Linked DNA regions of Homo sapiens: region 2 is linked to region 1. Evidence: fine-mapped expression QTL. Tissue or cell type: whole blood. Region 1 holds a variant in brackets; the other region holds the start of a gene. All regions are shown on one strand. Distances are from middle to middle.

Region 1 (8,000 bases):
GGGTTTTGTGGGGGCCTCTCCCAAGGGTTGGGCATTAAGTGTGATGCTCAGGCCTAGATGCTATTGAGTGTGCTTAATAGAGGCAGAAATGTTCTCATGGAATTGATATGGTGCTTGTCCAGGAGGGCACGGATGACGGGCGACTCTTCCATTCCCCTTGACAGTGCATCTCCTCTGGGCCTTGGAGGTACACACAGTGTCTGTGAGCTTCCAGCAAGGAGGTGGGTGGGGCGAGCAGAGTTGAGCTCCCCTCCAGGATGTCTTTCCATCCCTTTAGGTGGGTGGGGGGAGCAGAACTGAGCTCCCTTCCAGGATGTCTTTCCATCCCTTTTTTTGTCCAAGCTAGAGAGCAAACCCTACTCCAGAATAGCTCGGCAGTGATAGAAGGTCCTGGCCTGTTTTCTGGCTGGGCTGGTTCATCTTCCTAAATGTGTTTTTCTTGAATTTCCAAGTTATTCCAGGAATCTTCAGTTTTTGTAACAGATGTTTTATTGTGCTGCAGTACATTTATTAGGCCTTTCACCATCAAAATGAGGGAAAAGGATTTTCATAAATGTTGGAAGCCAATAAAACAAAACAACACTTGTTTATGGTTCAGTTTGCTGTTTATAAGTTTTGCCCCACCCCCAATCTCATGAATATAACTCTGTCTTTATGTGTATTACATTACCAGACAGACTATATAAAGTATAAAGCCAGATGGGTGCAGTGGCTCATGCCTGTCATCCCAGCACTTTGGGAGGCCGAGGTGGGCAGATCATGAGGTCAGGAGGTCGAGACCAGCCTGGCCAACGTGGTGAAACCTTGTCTCTACTAAAAAATATGAAAAATTAGCCGGGCTTGGTGGCACGCGCCTGTAATCCCAGATATTTGGGAGGCTGAGGCAGTAGAATCGCTTGAACCCAAGAGGCGGAGGTTTCAGTGAGCCGAGATTGCGCCATTACACTCCAGCCTGGGCGACAGAGCAAGACTCCATCTCAAGGGGGAAAAGAAAAAGCCGCTCAATTGTTTTGTCATGGGGCCGGGCGTGGTGGCTCACGCCTGTCATCCCAGCACTTTGGGAGGCCGAGGCGGGCGGATCACCTGAGGTCAGGAGTTCGAGACCAGCCTGACCAACATGGTGAAACCCCGTCTCTACTAAAAATACAAAAATTAGCTGGGCGTGGTGGCGGGTGCCTCTAATCGCAGCTACTCGGGAGGCTGAGGCAGGAGAATTGCTTGAACTCGGGAGGCGGAGGTTGCAGTGAGCCGAGATTACGTCATTGCACTCCAGCCTGGGGGACAAGAGCAAGACTTCGTCTCAAAAAGAAAAAAAAGCGTTTTGTCATTATATGTTTGTAATATTAAGGTGTGGGGAGTAGATTTCTCTGTGGGCCAGATTTGCTCAGATAAACAATGGCTAACTACCACCCTGCTGGCTGCCTCAGAGGGCTCCATGAACAGCCACTAAGTCAATGTGACTGTTTTTTTTTTTGAGACGGAGTTTCGCTCTGTCACCCAGGCTGGAGTGCAGTGGCACGATCTCCGCTCACTGCAACCTCTGCCGCCCAGGTTCAAGCGATTCTCCTGCCTCAGCCTCCCGACTAGCTGGGACTACAGGCTTCACTGCGCCCGGCTAATTTTTGTATTTTTAGTAGAGACGGGGGTTTCATTATGTTGGCCATGCTGGTCTCGAACTCCTGACCTCGGGTGATCCACCCACTTCAGCCTCCCAAAGTGCTGGGATGACAGGTGTGAGCCACCACGCCTGGCCCAGTGTGCCTTTTTACTTCAGCTCACAGATTTCCAGTTGGCCGTCTCTGCAGACCCTGGCCTCTAGCAGGGAAAGAGCCTTTTATTTGGCTGTTGTGAGGGCGCCTTGAAGTTTAGGTATTTATAAACGCGAACTGGGCTACCACTGCTTGCCTCTGAGAATCCCAGGGACCATCTCACAGCCAAACTAAATTTGGTCCCTGGACTGGTGCCTGAGGGCTGAGGCTGAGACATGGCTGTGACTCTTTATGACAGAGCAGCAGTTTTTAGTGGAGATTTTGGGCTGTCAGAGCAAGGGACCTTTCTGGAGTGGTGGTGGTTATTTTTCTGTTACCTCTGTGTCCCCTGAGTCACTGGGTGGCAGAGTGGAGGGGCACTGTTTAGATAGGATGTGAGGCGTTGGCCCTGGGTCAGTTGCTAGAGCAGAAGTGTTTGGTGGCGTTTTAATACCTCAAACCCTCCTTCAACATTACCATGTCCCACAGATGGGAGTTATAGAACAGAGTGAGCCATTTAGGGTTTTTGAAGAAAGCATATTATGCCTGTGGTGTAAGGCACTTGAATCCTCCATCTCTGCAGGAGAGACCTGCAGTGGGCTGCTGAGGACTTGGCTGTGGGTCCTGCGTTTCCCAGGATAACTCTAACAAGATTGATTTCAGAAGGTCCAACTGCAACCTGACTGGGTTGAGAGGCTATTTCCAAATGGCACAAATAGGTTTGACCAAACCCTCGTATGTGGTTTGTTTGTGAGCCTAGGGTGACTTCGGATGGTTAGAGGGTCGTGCCAGTTCAGGAGGAAGGCTGGAAAACAGTCTGAGCCCCACAGCCCATGATAGACTTGGAAAGAATCATGTAGCTACTTGCCATTTGCTATTACAGAGCTGAGCTACAGTGCAGTTCAAAGCAGGCCTTCCTTTTTCATCACAACATGGAGGAGTTATGTCAGTCTCTCCCATCCCTTCACCAAGAGGGCCTCTGGGGAAGAAGCATGACCAGGTTTGCACCCTAGAATGTCTGTCCTCAGTGGTCTCTTCTAGGACCTTAGGGGTCTCCCTGCCCAGGGGCAGAGTATGGCCCTGCGGAGGCTAGAGCTTCCCCAAGAGAGTGCACCCTCCTGACCTAGATATTAGATATATTTTTCCTGGGTGGAGAGATATGTATGGGACTTCTCTCTCTTCTGGGTCCAGATCAGAGGTAGTACATTTGTGTTTCTAGAGCGGAGGCCCTCAGAGCCCTGGACTCTGAGATAAGAGTCAGCACCACC[C/G]ACAGCACCCCTGCAGGTGACACTCCCTTATCCAGATCTCCCCAGGCAGGAGGCATCAGCATTGCCAGTAAGGAGACAGAAGGGCACAGATGACCTTGAAAAGGGGAAAAGGGATGCCCTCCCTCCCACACCACAGCTGCACCCACTTCTCCGTGGCACCCAGTTGTGTGCAACCTGGTATTTCTGCCATTTGGAAATAGCTGTGATCACAGTGGGCTTGCACATCTTGCACAAAGCTTCTTCCCTGATAAAAACCGGAAAGTTTAAGTGTTTGGGATAAGGGAACGGATGGGCAGCCATGCTATGAGGAAGGAAGTCAGCGCTCTGCACGCATCCCTGTGCACTGTCCCCTTGCCCTCCACGCGGCTCTTTGGGTGAAGGGCCGCTCTGTGGGTGAAGGGCCTGGGTCCTGGGAGTTGAAGGTGCAGCACAGCAAACCTGAGTGTAACTGGGAGAGGCCCCTCTGCCTGTGAACTTTAAAGAGCAGCTCCGCAGGGCAGTGCCGGCTCCAGCTGATCCTCCCTTTGAAAGCAAACTGCAACTGTTTCTCTCCTGAATTTAATAGAGCATGCCAAAAAATGACAGCATGTGCCTTCAGTCTGTGCTTCTCATGCCTTTTACCTTGTAATTCTGGTGATCTTACATCCATAACCTCTGGGATTGCTACAGAAGGGCAACTGTTAGTAGCTTCCACCAGCAGTCGGGGCAGAGCAACTCCATGAAGGTGCAGTTTACTGAGACCCTTCCGCTCTGGGGCCAGCAGGGCATGGTGCTGTGGTATTTTGTTAACTTATTTTTATTCTACCTCTCTTAAATTTTAAGGTTTTCAGATGTTATTCTGGCAACAATTTTGGCAACCAAGTCTGAAATGTGTGGCCAAAAATTTGAACTGAAGATTGATAATGTGCGATTTGTTGGGCACCCAACACTGCTACAGCATGCTCTGGGGCAGGTATGGCTCTCCCTGGGCAGGTGGGGCTCTCCCTGGGCAGATGTGGCTCTCCTTGGGCAGGTGTGGCTCTCCTTGGGCAGGTGTGGCTCTCCTTGGGCAGGTGTGGCTTCCCCTGGGCAGGTGTGGCTCTCCTTGGGCAGGTGGGGCTCCCCCTGGGTAGATTTGGCTTCCCCTGGGCAGATGTGGCTTCCCCTGGGCAGGTACAGACCCTCTGGGAAGGTGTGGCTCCCCCTGGGCAGGTGTGGCTTCCCCTGGGCAGATGCGTCTGTCCTTGGGCAGGTGGGGTTCTCCCTGGGCATGCACAGACCCTCTGGGCAGATGTGGCTCTCCCTGGGCCGGCAGGCCTGGTCCATTCTGGCTCTGGGGGGCTCAGAACTGAGGCTGACACCAGCTCTGGTGAAGGTACTGGGCAGGAGACCTGATTAGACACTTGGTATGAACTGTGCATCTTCATAAACCCAGAGAGTCCAGTAGAAAAAGAGACAGGTGTTCTTGCCCCTGAAGACAGGTGCTTCAGTCCCTGTCCCTAGCTTTTACAGTCTGCATTCTAGGTCTCTACTGACTGTGGCCCTCCCCTTCATATGTAGGATGTCTGTTTCCAGGGGAGGCCAAGATAGTGAGTTAACTAGCATCGTGAAACCCTTGAATTTTCTACAGTGTGGTGCAAGCATTTCCTCTTATTTATTACAAGACACTCTAGTAGCTAATATTAGTATTATTTAGCACTTATTTTTCTGCTAAACCCTCTCTATATGTTCTCTTGATGAATAGGTGTCATAGCACTGAGGAACTCATCTTGTTAGCAGGATGAAGGGAACTTGTACACCAGAGCCTGCCAGTCAGCTCTCTGCATACAGGCAGGATCAGTGATGGCATTACTAAGATTCTGAAGGGTCGAACACAGTAACGTAGGATTTAGCTACATTTATACAGATCCAGCAATTCTGGGAGGTTCTGTGGTGTTATTCGTGAACCTCCATGGAAGGAGTTTCTGAGGCGGTTGATGAGCCTGGTCCCCTGTACCGCACCCTCCCTTCTCATCACAGCCTCCACAGCTGGGGCACAGTCCCCTACCTGTAGGCAATGAAGGGGAGAGTTGGCAGCCTGCCCGCGGTCACACCCTGTAGACAGGAGTGGCAGTCAGGGGTAGGGGATGGGTGCCAGGGCAGCCTGGGGCCCCAACTCCCCCTGGTGGCAGAACTTGTAGTTGGCTTTGAAGAGTTCCCCCGTGCCCCTTGGAATGCTTCCCTTGAGCGCCCTGGTCCTTGTGAAGCTGGCTGGATGCCAGAACCGGGAGCACAGAAATTAGGACTTGCTGGCCTGCCTCACCTGGGCCCTGCTCAGGGCTTGGCTGTCCCTGAACATCGTCCTGTCCCTCAATTGTTCTGAGTATGCGTCATACTTAGCAGATACAGCCTGGTGGATGCAGGCGGGCACGGGAAGGCAGTGGGGGTGTGGGTCTGGGTCCTCCACCCATTTATGCCCCTCTCCATCTCGTCCCCTGTGGGCATTGTCAGCTCACTTCTGTTAGCGGGGGGGCGAGGGGGTCAGAGCACTGACCTTCCCACTCTTGTCATAGTTGTGACTTTGCCCATGCAGTAGGCACGCCTCCAGAGCAAAGGCATTCATTGCTTTTCCAAGACCTTGGTGCTGTATTCTGGGGACTTTTGCCATGCCTGAAGTAGAATAGCTCTAAACAGCTTTCCTTAGAAAGTCGTCTCAATTAATTAGAATTATGCATCTTTTACAGATCTCCAAAACAGATCCTTCCCCGAAGAGGGAAGCACCTACTATGATTCTTTTTAATGTGGTGTTTGCACTGAGGGTGAGTGTTTATATAAATGGTTAAGATCAGGGAGTGGGGCCAGTGGAGAAGCAGCTCTTTTTTTCCAACGAGCGTGTCATTGACTCGGAGCTTGGACTGCAGCGGGCTGGCCCCTCCTGGGGTGCAGGCAGACTGCACTTCATTGTTTACCCCTTTTTGTTTTGGTAAAATACACATAACACTATTTGTCATTTTGAAGTCTATGCTTCAGTGGCATCTGGTACATTCATGTTGTATAACCATCACCACTATCTAGATCCAGAACACTTTCACCACCCCAGAAGGAAACCCCATACCCATTAGCAGTTATTCTCTTTTTTTTTTTTGAGACAGAATCTCGCTGTGTCACCCAGGCTGGAGTGTAGTAGCGCAATCTTGGCTCAATGCAACCCCTGCCTCCCAAGCTCAAGTGAGTCTCCTGCCTCAGCCTCCCGAGTAGCTGGGATTACAGGTGTGCGCCACCACGCCCAGCTAATTTTTGTATTTTTAGTAGAGATCGGTGGGGGGGGGGGGTCTCGCCATGTTGGCCATGCTGGTCTTGAACTCGTGACCTTAGGTGATCCACCCACCTTGGCCTCCCAGACTGCTGGGATTACAGGCGTGAGCCACTGTGCCCTGCCCCTGCTAATTTTTGTATTTTTTGTAGAGATGAGTTTTCACCTTATTGCCCTGGCTGATCTTGAACTCCTGGTCTCAAATGGTCTTCCCTCCTTGGCCACCCAAAGTGCTGGGATTCCAGGTGTGAGCCACTATGCCCAGCTGGAGCTTAATTTTTAAGACAGGCCTGCCTTGTTGATAAATAAGGAACTACAAATTAAAACAAAATGATTTGTTAATGGCTCCTGGGGTACAGGGTTCTGGGAGAAGTTCTTCACTTTCTGCTTGATACACTTTTGTAGTATTTGCATTTTCATAGCATCTTTGTATTTCTTACATAATTACATAATATAAAGCGCCACAAAGAAAAATGAATTAAGTAAAAAAACAAGCAAAGGAGTAAACAAAATCCATGACGAATGTTGTCCACCTGTCAACACCGATAACCCCTGTGGGACAGTTGATGAAACGCAGCCACAGCCCCACCCAGGATGCTGTAGGCAGGCCCTCACCTCGGGGAACAGTGTTTGCAGGATGCTGTAAGCAGGCCCTCACCTCGGGGAATAGTGTTTCCAGGATGCTGTAGGCAGGCCCTCACCTCGGGGAGTAGTGTTTGACAGCATAGCATATGATGCCCTTAGATCTAGCAGTCCCACTGTTAGGAGTATTATCAAGAAAAACAAGCAACTTTTACAACTGCGTAAAGATTTCCCCCAGGCTTGTTCTCAGCAAGAATAAAGATTTTTATAACAATAATTAAACTGGAGATAATCATAGTGTGTAGTAGTTGGGGAGTGATTAAACAATGTGGTGATTATTATACACTGGCCCATCCTCTTGCCATCAAGGGTGAGAAATGGAGATCAGACCAGAACCTGGAGAAGTATAGATTGATTACGGACAGGTAAAAGCAACCGGAGCCGAGCACAAATGCTTACGCCTGTAATACCAGCACTTTGGGAGGCTGAAGCGGGCGGATCACCTGAGATCAGGAGTTTGAGAGCAGGCTGACCAGCATGGAGATACCCCGTCTCTACTAAAAAATACAAAATTAGCCAGGTGTGGTGGTGGACACCTGTAATTCCAGCTACTCAGGAGGCTGAGGCAGTAGAATCGGTTGAATCCGGGAGGCGGAGGTTGCAGTGAGCAGAGATCGCACCATTGCACTCCAATCTGGGCAACAAGAGCGAAACTCCAGCTCAAAAAAAAAAAAGCAACAGGAAACAAGATAGTCTAGGACTTCAGCTGGCCGTGATATTGACGAGTAGGAGAAATTTTGATAATGTAAAGAGTTTGTATTTTTTGGGTGGACAAGTCTTTCTTTTTAAAATATATACTTTTGTCATTTTAAATATATATTCTTTCTTTTTAAAATATACACTTTTGTCATTTTAAATATATATTCTTTCTTTTTAAAATATACACTTTTGTCCAGGCACAGTGGCTCACTCCTGTATTCCTAGCACTTCGGGAGGCCAAGGTGGGTGGATCACTTGAGCCCAGGAGTTTGACACCAGCCTGGGCAACATAGCGAAACCCCATCTCTACAAAAAATACAAAAATTAGCCAGGCATGATGATGTGCGCCTGTAGTCCCAGCTACCTGGGAGG
Region 2 (8,000 bases), 47 kb before region 1:
ACCCTCACTCCAGCCACCTACCCTCTGGCAGGAAGGGGTGAGAATGAGAGAAATGTTCTGGCACCTGCACTTGCATTGGGGACAGCCTATTTTGCTAGTTTGTTTTGTTTCGTTTTGTTTTGATGGAGAGCGTATGTTAACTGGGTTCAACCAGGGAGATTTCAAAGGAGGGTGGCGATGCTGGGACTCCCTGAGTAGAACCCTGGATGCCTCTCTCCTCCCCAGCTTCTGAGCCACTGCCTGCAGGCCTGGCACCTCTCAGGACAGGGGATGGTTCAGCACCTTCTCTTGAGCAGGCCCACCTCAGCTTCCCCTCCCATACTCCCTGCAGTTCTCCCTCCCCAGCCCCATGCAGCTGCAGAGAGGTCCTTGGTCTGAGACAGGTAAACACCTCCACTGTTGGCACATTCCGGGACAGAGAGAACCCAGGCACACACAGGCTGCTGCCTACTCGGACTTCATTCAAAGATCAGGAAGTGCTGGGGCAGGGAGGGGAGGAGGGCCTGGTGGGAGGCCCAGCAGGCAGGGGGCATGACCACCAATGCTCTAGCTTAATGGTGTTTTTAGGTCAACACAGCACTCACAAAAGCAAATAATTTGTCCATGGAGGCACCACATGGGTAAACTGGGAAGGGTGTGGCAGGCCTAGGTCACCAGCAGGCATTTACCCAGGAACTGTGGAGAGAGAGTCAGGGGATGCAGATACTACTGCCACCTGTGCTCCACCTCCCTGAACGCGTGGGAGGGTCTGTCCTATGAGGAAGGCCAGCTGCCCCCACACCCTAGATTCCTCCCAGCCCAAAGCTCTCCCTGATGTTGCCTGGGTCCACCCACAGCTCGTGGACATGCAGCTTCCTCAGCTCAGACACATCATTGGGCATGTCATCTAAGTGGACCACGGCATTGGTCAGCGTGTCGGCCACCTACTTGCATTGTTTCTTGATCTGGGCTGAGCCATAACTCAGGGCCAAGTGAGAGGAAGGTCAGGAACATGCTTCAGGGGGAAGCAAAGAGTGAGGGGCTGGGGGCTGGGTCCAGGGTAAGAATAGTTAGGGGTGGCCAGTGGAGCCCTGGAGTGGGCGTTGGACCCAAGGTGTGAGCAGGGAGAGGAGGGTTCTTGCCTCTCCAGGGCCTCCGTGGCATAGCCAGCAGTGTGGTTGCCAACTTTCTCCCAGACCGCCTTGGTGTTAGCCTTGTCCTCAGGAGACAGCACCACGGCAGCTTATTTCTGAGTCTGTGTAAGCTCAAAAGTGAAAGGTGGGGGAGAGTAGGAGCTCTTATGCCTGGGATGCAGGGTCATTGGCTGGCAAGTTGCCAGGAGGTGCCTGGCACAGGAAAGGGGAGGAGGAGTGAGTGAGAGTAGACAGGTTGCCCAAGGCTGCCCTGCGTCTCTTAGTCCTGCCCAAACAGAGACCAGCTCTCCACATGGTAGCCTTCCCGCTGGCATTGTCCTGAGCTTCCACACAGGGTCCTGAGCAGCTTATACCCATAAGGTATCCACATATGGCCCAGACCCAGGCAGCTTCCTGGATGGGGAGAAGAGCACAGTTTTTCCAAAGTGAAACATAAGCTGCTTTCACACCAAACTCTGCCTGGGACAAAAAGCTGTTAATTATCCATGTAAACAGTTGCGGGGGCTGGGTGTGGTGGCTCACGCCTGTCATCCCAGCACTTTGGGAGACCGAGGAGGGCAGATCACTTGAGGTCAGGAGTTTGAGACCAGCCTGATCAACATGGTGAAACTGTGTCTCTATTAAAAATACAAAAATTAGCCAGGAATGGCGGCCCATGCCTGTAATCCCAGCTACACGGGAGACAGAGGCAGGAGAATCGCTTGAACCCAGGAGGTTGAGGCTGCAGTGAGCCAAAACTGTGCCACTGCACTCCAGCCGGGGTGTCAGAGCAAGGGCCTATCTCAAAAACAAAAACAAAGCAAAAAAAAAAAAAACCCCCAAAAACAAAAAAACAGTTGGGGGATGTAGATAACGTGGGGCCAAGTTCTCCAAACTACCGGGCTGGGGTCCCAGGCAGTGCAGGGCAACAGGTCACTGGCACTGACTGCTGGGGGGAGTTTGGCCGACTCACAGTCAGGGCTCCACTTCCAGCAGCTCTCTTCAGACCTCGTTGCTGACTGCCAGGTCAGACCTGGGTGCCAGGCCTGGTCCAGTGCTCCCCACACAGACCCAGGATGGCCAACCCAGAGCCAACCCTATTCAGGGTTTGGAGACCTCCAAGGTCCCACTCTTTCCTCAGCCCCTATTCTTTGTCTGAAAAGCCTGGGGTGGAGCCCTAAGATTCCCTTCCCAGTCCTGGGGAGGGAGAAGAGGGAACCTGGGGAAGGGAGTGCCTTGGCCTGGGCACCTGCAGAGATTGAGACACGGCAGCTGGGGCTGGGTGGAGGGGTGGGGTGGCAACGACCCTGCAGGCACCCACCCTGTGTTATGATTTCAAAAATTATTTCAAAAATCTCGTGAGTTGGACGTTGTTTTTCTATTCGATAGGTAAAGGCCTGAGAGCTCTGGGACACGCCCAGGGTCGCACAGCTTGTCATTGAGCAGGCTGGAAGACTAAACCTGCTCTGTCTGCCAAATTGTGGCCACTGAGGACTTCCTCCCGACCTCATCCCCAGGGCTGCAGGGTCACAGGGAGGGCTAACCAGGCTAGCGCAGGTTTGCCACTGAGGAAGTGTCCATGGGGGAAGGAAGGGGAAAGGAACAGGTCTGCGGAGCCCTCTGCTCTGGGCCAACGAATTAGGTTGCACATTTGGCTCTGGGACCTCAGTTTCTGCATCTCTCTGCAAAAAGGGCCAGGATTAGCATCTACAGGTCCCAGCAGGAAGTGGGGATGGAGGGAGAATGAATGAATAAATGCGTGAATGGGGAAGTGCTTTGCGAACAGTATGGTTGGAAGCCCGATTCAAGGGTTGAAGTCGAAGGCCACCCTCCCTACCCCCGCCACATCACAGTGCTCCCTCTGCCCCATCGCACTCCTCGCCATGGGAGGACAAACCTCCGGGGGTGGGGCGCATTTGAGAGTTCTAGGAGGCTCCTTTTAGGTCCCTGAGCTTCACTGGCCAACAATAGTGACCTCGCTTTGCTAGCTCCCCAAAGACCACACAGGCAGGGGCAGATGGTTCGGGCCTCTGTTTATTGACAGGCACAGACCAAGGCCTGCGCAGCACAGGGCTCAGCGGTATTTTTCGGTCAGCACCACGGCCACACCAGTCAGGAACTTGTCCCACGCCGCTTGCATTTGCACGGTGAACTCGTCCTGCAGGTGGGAGGCCAGCACGACGTGGAAACACTGGATTAGCAGCTGCAGGAGAAGGGGCCGGTGAGACGGGGTCTGCCCCGCTAGGGACCCCCAGAGCCCCCCCACCCCGGCTGCGCGCTGCACCATTGCCCCGGCCGGAAAGGCCTCACCGGAAAGTTGGCTGGGTCCACGCGCAGCACGAGCGCGTGCAGGTCCGCCAGCGGGCTCAGCGCGGCGCGCAGGTTGTCCACGTGCTGCACCGCCGCGCCCACAGCCGCCAGCATGCGCTGCCCGTGGCTCAGCAGCTGCGTCGCGTCCTGGCAGGCGCTCAGGTGCGGGAAGTAGACCTTGGTGCTGGGGTACACCGTGAAGAGCCTGCAGGACCAGGTCAGTGACCGGGGAGGAGGGCGGCTGCGTGGGGCTTCACTAGCGCCCACACCGCCCAGAGCCCGGGGATCCGCACCCGAAGGACCTTGGATGGCGTTGGCGGCCCACGCGCCCAAAACCCTCATCTCCACCTCCCTGAGCTCCCGGAGACCCCGCCTCTACCGACCTGAGCAGCAGCTCCGCCCCGAATTGCGCCTCGTGGCCCGCAATCAGGTCCCAGACCTGCGCGATTTGGGCGCGCTCCTGGGCGCTGAGCATGGCGCCGCCTGACGTGCTCTGGGGGCCGCGCCCGCCGCCCTGGCCTCCTTATAGAGCCTCCGGGCACCCCGCCCGTCCTTATCGGCCCGAGCGCGGCGGGAACGCGGGGACCCTCGGCCTGCGCCGGGGAACGTAACCAGCCCGGGTTCCCGTCTGTGTGGAGGCCTCGACCTCCGGGATCCCAGGGTTTCTGGCATTGACCCACGCCGTTGCGCGTGGGCACCTTTACTGCAGACTTTAGGGGCATCTGTTTACTCCCCTCGGGTAAAGTTACTGCTCTGCCAGGAGGGAGCACATGGGAGGAACCGGAGAGAGAACACCGGGCAGGAAACCCCCTACTCTCTTAGGAGTCGGGGAGGGACCGGCCTCAGGGACCCCCGTAGCTGCCAGAGTCCCGGGATTCGGACGTCAGGCTTTGTGGAAAAGTTCCCTGAGCCCCGACACGCTTCCAATACGCTTAGTGAAGTGACAATCTTTGTGCGATATGGGAAGCCGGGAGACGCACAAACGCCCGTCCGACTCAAGGACCCCAGGAGACGCCGCGGGCCGGCCCGGGACTGCTCCGCTCCACCCGGGCCGCAGCTCCGGTGCTCAGGGGCTAGAACCTCCCCAAGGCGCCCCCCAAGTGAACCCCAGGCCGCGACGACAGTGGGGACGACCGAGTTCCTGCGAAGCCCCCGGACCCATCACTCAGCTTCTCCCCTCCTTCCCTCCAATACTGAGAACACAGAGCCCAGATCGCTCCGTCCTCATCCATTTATTGGAGTCAGGGCAGGAACTGTGGGAGGGTGAAGGGCAGGGGAGGGGCCGCAGCCTGTCCTGGGGGTCCCGGAGGCGGCGCTCAGCGGTACTTCTCGGTCAGGACAGAGGATACGACCGATAGGAACTTGGCCCAGGCGGCGTGGGCCTCGGCCGTGAAGTCGGCGGGGAAGCGCGCGGCCAGGGTGACCAGCAGGCAGTGGGACAGGAGCTGGGGGCGGGGGCGGCTCAGTGCGGGGGCGGGGCCTAGCCCGGGCCCCGCCCCGCGACCCCACCCCGCCCCGCCCCGCCCCGCGCCCCGCCCCGCGACCCCGCCCCGCGACCCCGCCCCGGCCCGGCCCGCCCCGCCCCGCGCCCCGCCCCGCCCAGCCCCTCCCCGCCCCGCCCCGCCCCGCCGGGCCCCGGCCGCCCCGCCCGCCCCGCCCCGCCCCGCCCCGCCCCGCGACCCCGCCCCGCCCCGCGACCCCACCCCGCCCCGCCCCGCGACCCCGCCCCGCGGCCCCGCCCGCCCCGCGGCCCCGCCCCGCCCCGCCCGCACCGCGCCCCGCGCACCTTGAAGTTGACCGGGTCCACGCGCAGGATGTAGGCGTGCAGCTCGCTCAGCTTGGACAGGGCGCCGCCGATGTCGTCGATGCTCTTCACCGCGTCGCCCACGGCGGCCACCACCTTGGAGCCGTGCGCGCGCAACTGCGCGGACCCCGGGTGCAGGTCGAAGTGCGGGAAGTAGGTCTTGGTCTGCGGGTGGCTGAGGAAGAGCCTGGGACGGGGGGCGGGGGCCGTGAGCTCCCAGCAGCGCGGCCTCCCGCCACGGCCCACGCGCCCTGCGGCCCTCTCCGAGCACCGGGACACATCTGCGACCCCGCAGCAGGCCCCAGCCCCTCCTCGCGGGGCCCGGGTGCCCAGGCAGCTGCCCCTCCCAGGCTGCCCTGGGCTAGAGGCCCCCCAGGCCTCTGCAGCTCCCGGCTGATCGCCCTGCTTCCGACGGGTTCTGTGCAGCCTGGTCCCCAAATCTCCCGCCCTCCGCCTCCAGCACGCCTGGTGCCCCCAGCCCCTCCACCGTCTCCTCTGGCCACAGGACCTCCCTCCCAGCCCCAGACTGGGTTGCCCGCCACCCCTTCTGCAGGCTCATGACCTCCCAGCAGCGTTCCAGGGAAGGAAAAGCTCCCTGGCCCCTCCCAGGGGATCAGATGCTGGGAATTTGAAGCTGGGACAGTGCCCTGATCCCAGATGCTGGGACTTTAGAGGCTGTAGTGCCCTGGCTGCCCTGTAAGGCCCTTCAGGCCTAGAACGAAACCTTTCACCCTCTGCTTGTCAGAACCTGGGCCTGTGCCTGCCCAGGTCTCAGCGAGCCCAGATGGTTGTGCAACTCCTAATCGTTCCCTCCTTACCCTGCCCTCCTCACTGAGAGGGAAGGCTATCTGTCTCCACTGTCCCCTCCCCACAGTCCCCTCCTCACTGTCCCTTCCTCACTCTCCCCTCCCCACTGTGCCCTCCCCATGGTCCCCTCCTCACTGTCCTCTCCCCACAGTCCCCTCCTCACTGTCCCCTCTCCATTGTCCCCTCCTCACTGTCCCCTCCCCATGGTCCCCTCCTCACTGTCCCCTCCCCAAGGTCCCCTCCTCACTGTCTCCTTCCCACGGTCCCCTCCTCACTGTCCCCTCCCCACGGTCCCCTCCTCACTGTCCCCTCCCCACGGTCCCCTCCTCACTGTCCCCTCCCTACGGTCCCCTCCTCACTGTCTCCTCCCCACGGTCCCCTCCTCACTGTCCCCTCCCCACGGTCCCCTCCTCACTGTCCCCTCCCCACTGTCCCCTCCCTATGGTCCCCTCCTCACTGTCCCCACTCCACGGTCCCCTTCCCATGGTCCCCTCCTCACTGTCCCCTCTCCACTGTCCTCTCCCCACTGTCTCCTACTCACTGTCCCCTCCCCACGGTCCCCTCCCCACTGCCCGCTCCCCACTGTCCCCACTCACATACCTGGCCTCCCACCCAGTCCCTCTGGCAGTCCCATCTGACACTCACCTCTCCAGAGTCTCGGTGCCGATGGTGTCGGCCTGCGTGGAGATCTTGGCCCACATGGACACAATGATGGTCCCCTAAGTCTTGGTCAGAGACATGGCGGCAGGGTGGGCGGCTGCACTGGAGTTGGGCCTGCTCAGGACTGGCCTTGGTAGTGCTCAGCCCCCAGGGTCCCCTTATATACAGGGAGCTGGGCCCAGCCAGGCTGTGGCCATTGGTCAGGTGAGGGGAGGGGGCTGCAGGGGTGGTGTTTCTTATCAGATCCAGTGACAAAGGGGCCCTCAGGTGGGACTGGGGGCTGAGGAACCTATCGCTTCTGTCTCCCCTTCTGCCCACCCCTGAGTCACAGCTGGAGCCCCAGCTTCAGGGAGATTGGGGCCCCAATCTGGGCATGAGAGTCCACGTGGTCAGCCCAGCCCGGACTGGCCTCAGGAGTGACTGTCCTTGACCTCCCTGTCCCTGTGATGACAGGGTGACCTAGAGCACATGGGCCCTGGCAGAGGGACGATCCATTCCTCACTTCACTGAAACTTCTCTGGCCCACCTTATGAGCTCCAGTTTGCAAATGAGGAAACCGAGACCCCCTAGAGAGAAAGTGGGACCCAGTGTCACAGGGTGGGAAGGGACAGACCTCTCCCACCTCCGGTGTGCAGCCCCCTCACCTGAATGAGGCTCGGTCTGGGGTTCTCCTCCAGTAGCCTTGTAGGGGACACTCTGAGCCGGGCACCTAGGCAGGAAAGCGTCTTGGGAGGCCGGACTCCTCACAGAAGGTGAGGTCATGCAGGCCTGCAATTCTGCTCACTATGTTCTCATCGCAGCCTGGAGGAGACCCTCCTCCAGCTCTACTGATTTATTTCTTTTTATCCTCTCTGTTTATTAACTCCCCCCTCCTCCGTTAGACAACCATTTCTATGTGCTGAATATATTCCTTTTAGTTAGTACGTGTGCTTGCAAAGGGTATGATTTTATGCATGTATTTTAAATTTATACGAATTATAGGTAGATATAAAAATTTTGTTTGTTAGTTTGTTTCTGAGATGGAGTCTTGCTCTGTCTCCCAGACTGGAGTGTGGTGGCATGATTTTGACCCACTGCAACCTCTGCCTCCTGGGTTCAAGTGATTCTCCTGCTTCAGTCTCCTGAGTAGCTGGGATTACAGGCACACACCACCACGGCCTGGCTAATTTTTGTATTTTTAGTACAGATGGAATTTCACCATGTTGGCCAGGCTGGTGTCGAACTCTTGACCTCAGGTGATCTGCCTGCCTCGGCCTCTGAAAGAGCTGGGATTATGAGCGTGAACCACCGTGCCCGGCCCATGCACA

The links. PIP is the estimated chance that this variant, and not a neighbour inherited with it, causes the effect.
Region 2: HBM starts here. The variant in region 1 is fine-mapped to the expression of HBM in whole blood (INTERVAL, PIP 0.98).

Annotation. Positions count from the first base shown.
Region 1 is chr16:115,094-123,093 of GRCh38, reverse strand. NPRL3 (NPR3 like, GATOR1 complex subunit) reads left to right here. Exons shown (of 14, transcript NM_001077350.3): 4 at 3,839-3,968; 5 at 5,719-5,793. Among named protein-coding and RNA genes, the nearest start is that of NPRL3, 20 kb to the left of the region's middle. RefSeq lists an enhancer at 7,035-8,000. The variant C/G (reference allele first, on the strand shown) is at 3,017.
Region 2 is chr16:161,895-169,894 of GRCh38, reverse strand. It overlaps HBM (hemoglobin subunit mu), which reads right to left and starts at 3,917. Exons shown (of 3, transcript NM_001003938.4): 1 at 3,806-3,917; 2 at 3,423-3,627; 3 at 3,131-3,315. The coding sequence starts at 3,897. The coding sequence ends at 3,187. It overlaps LOC107983982 (a long non-coding RNA gene), which reads right to left. Exons shown (of 3, transcript XR_001752047.1): 2 at 7,338-7,402; 3 at 6,974-7,259. It also overlaps the pseudogene HBZP1 and the pseudogene HBAP1. RefSeq lists an enhancer at 5,610-6,110.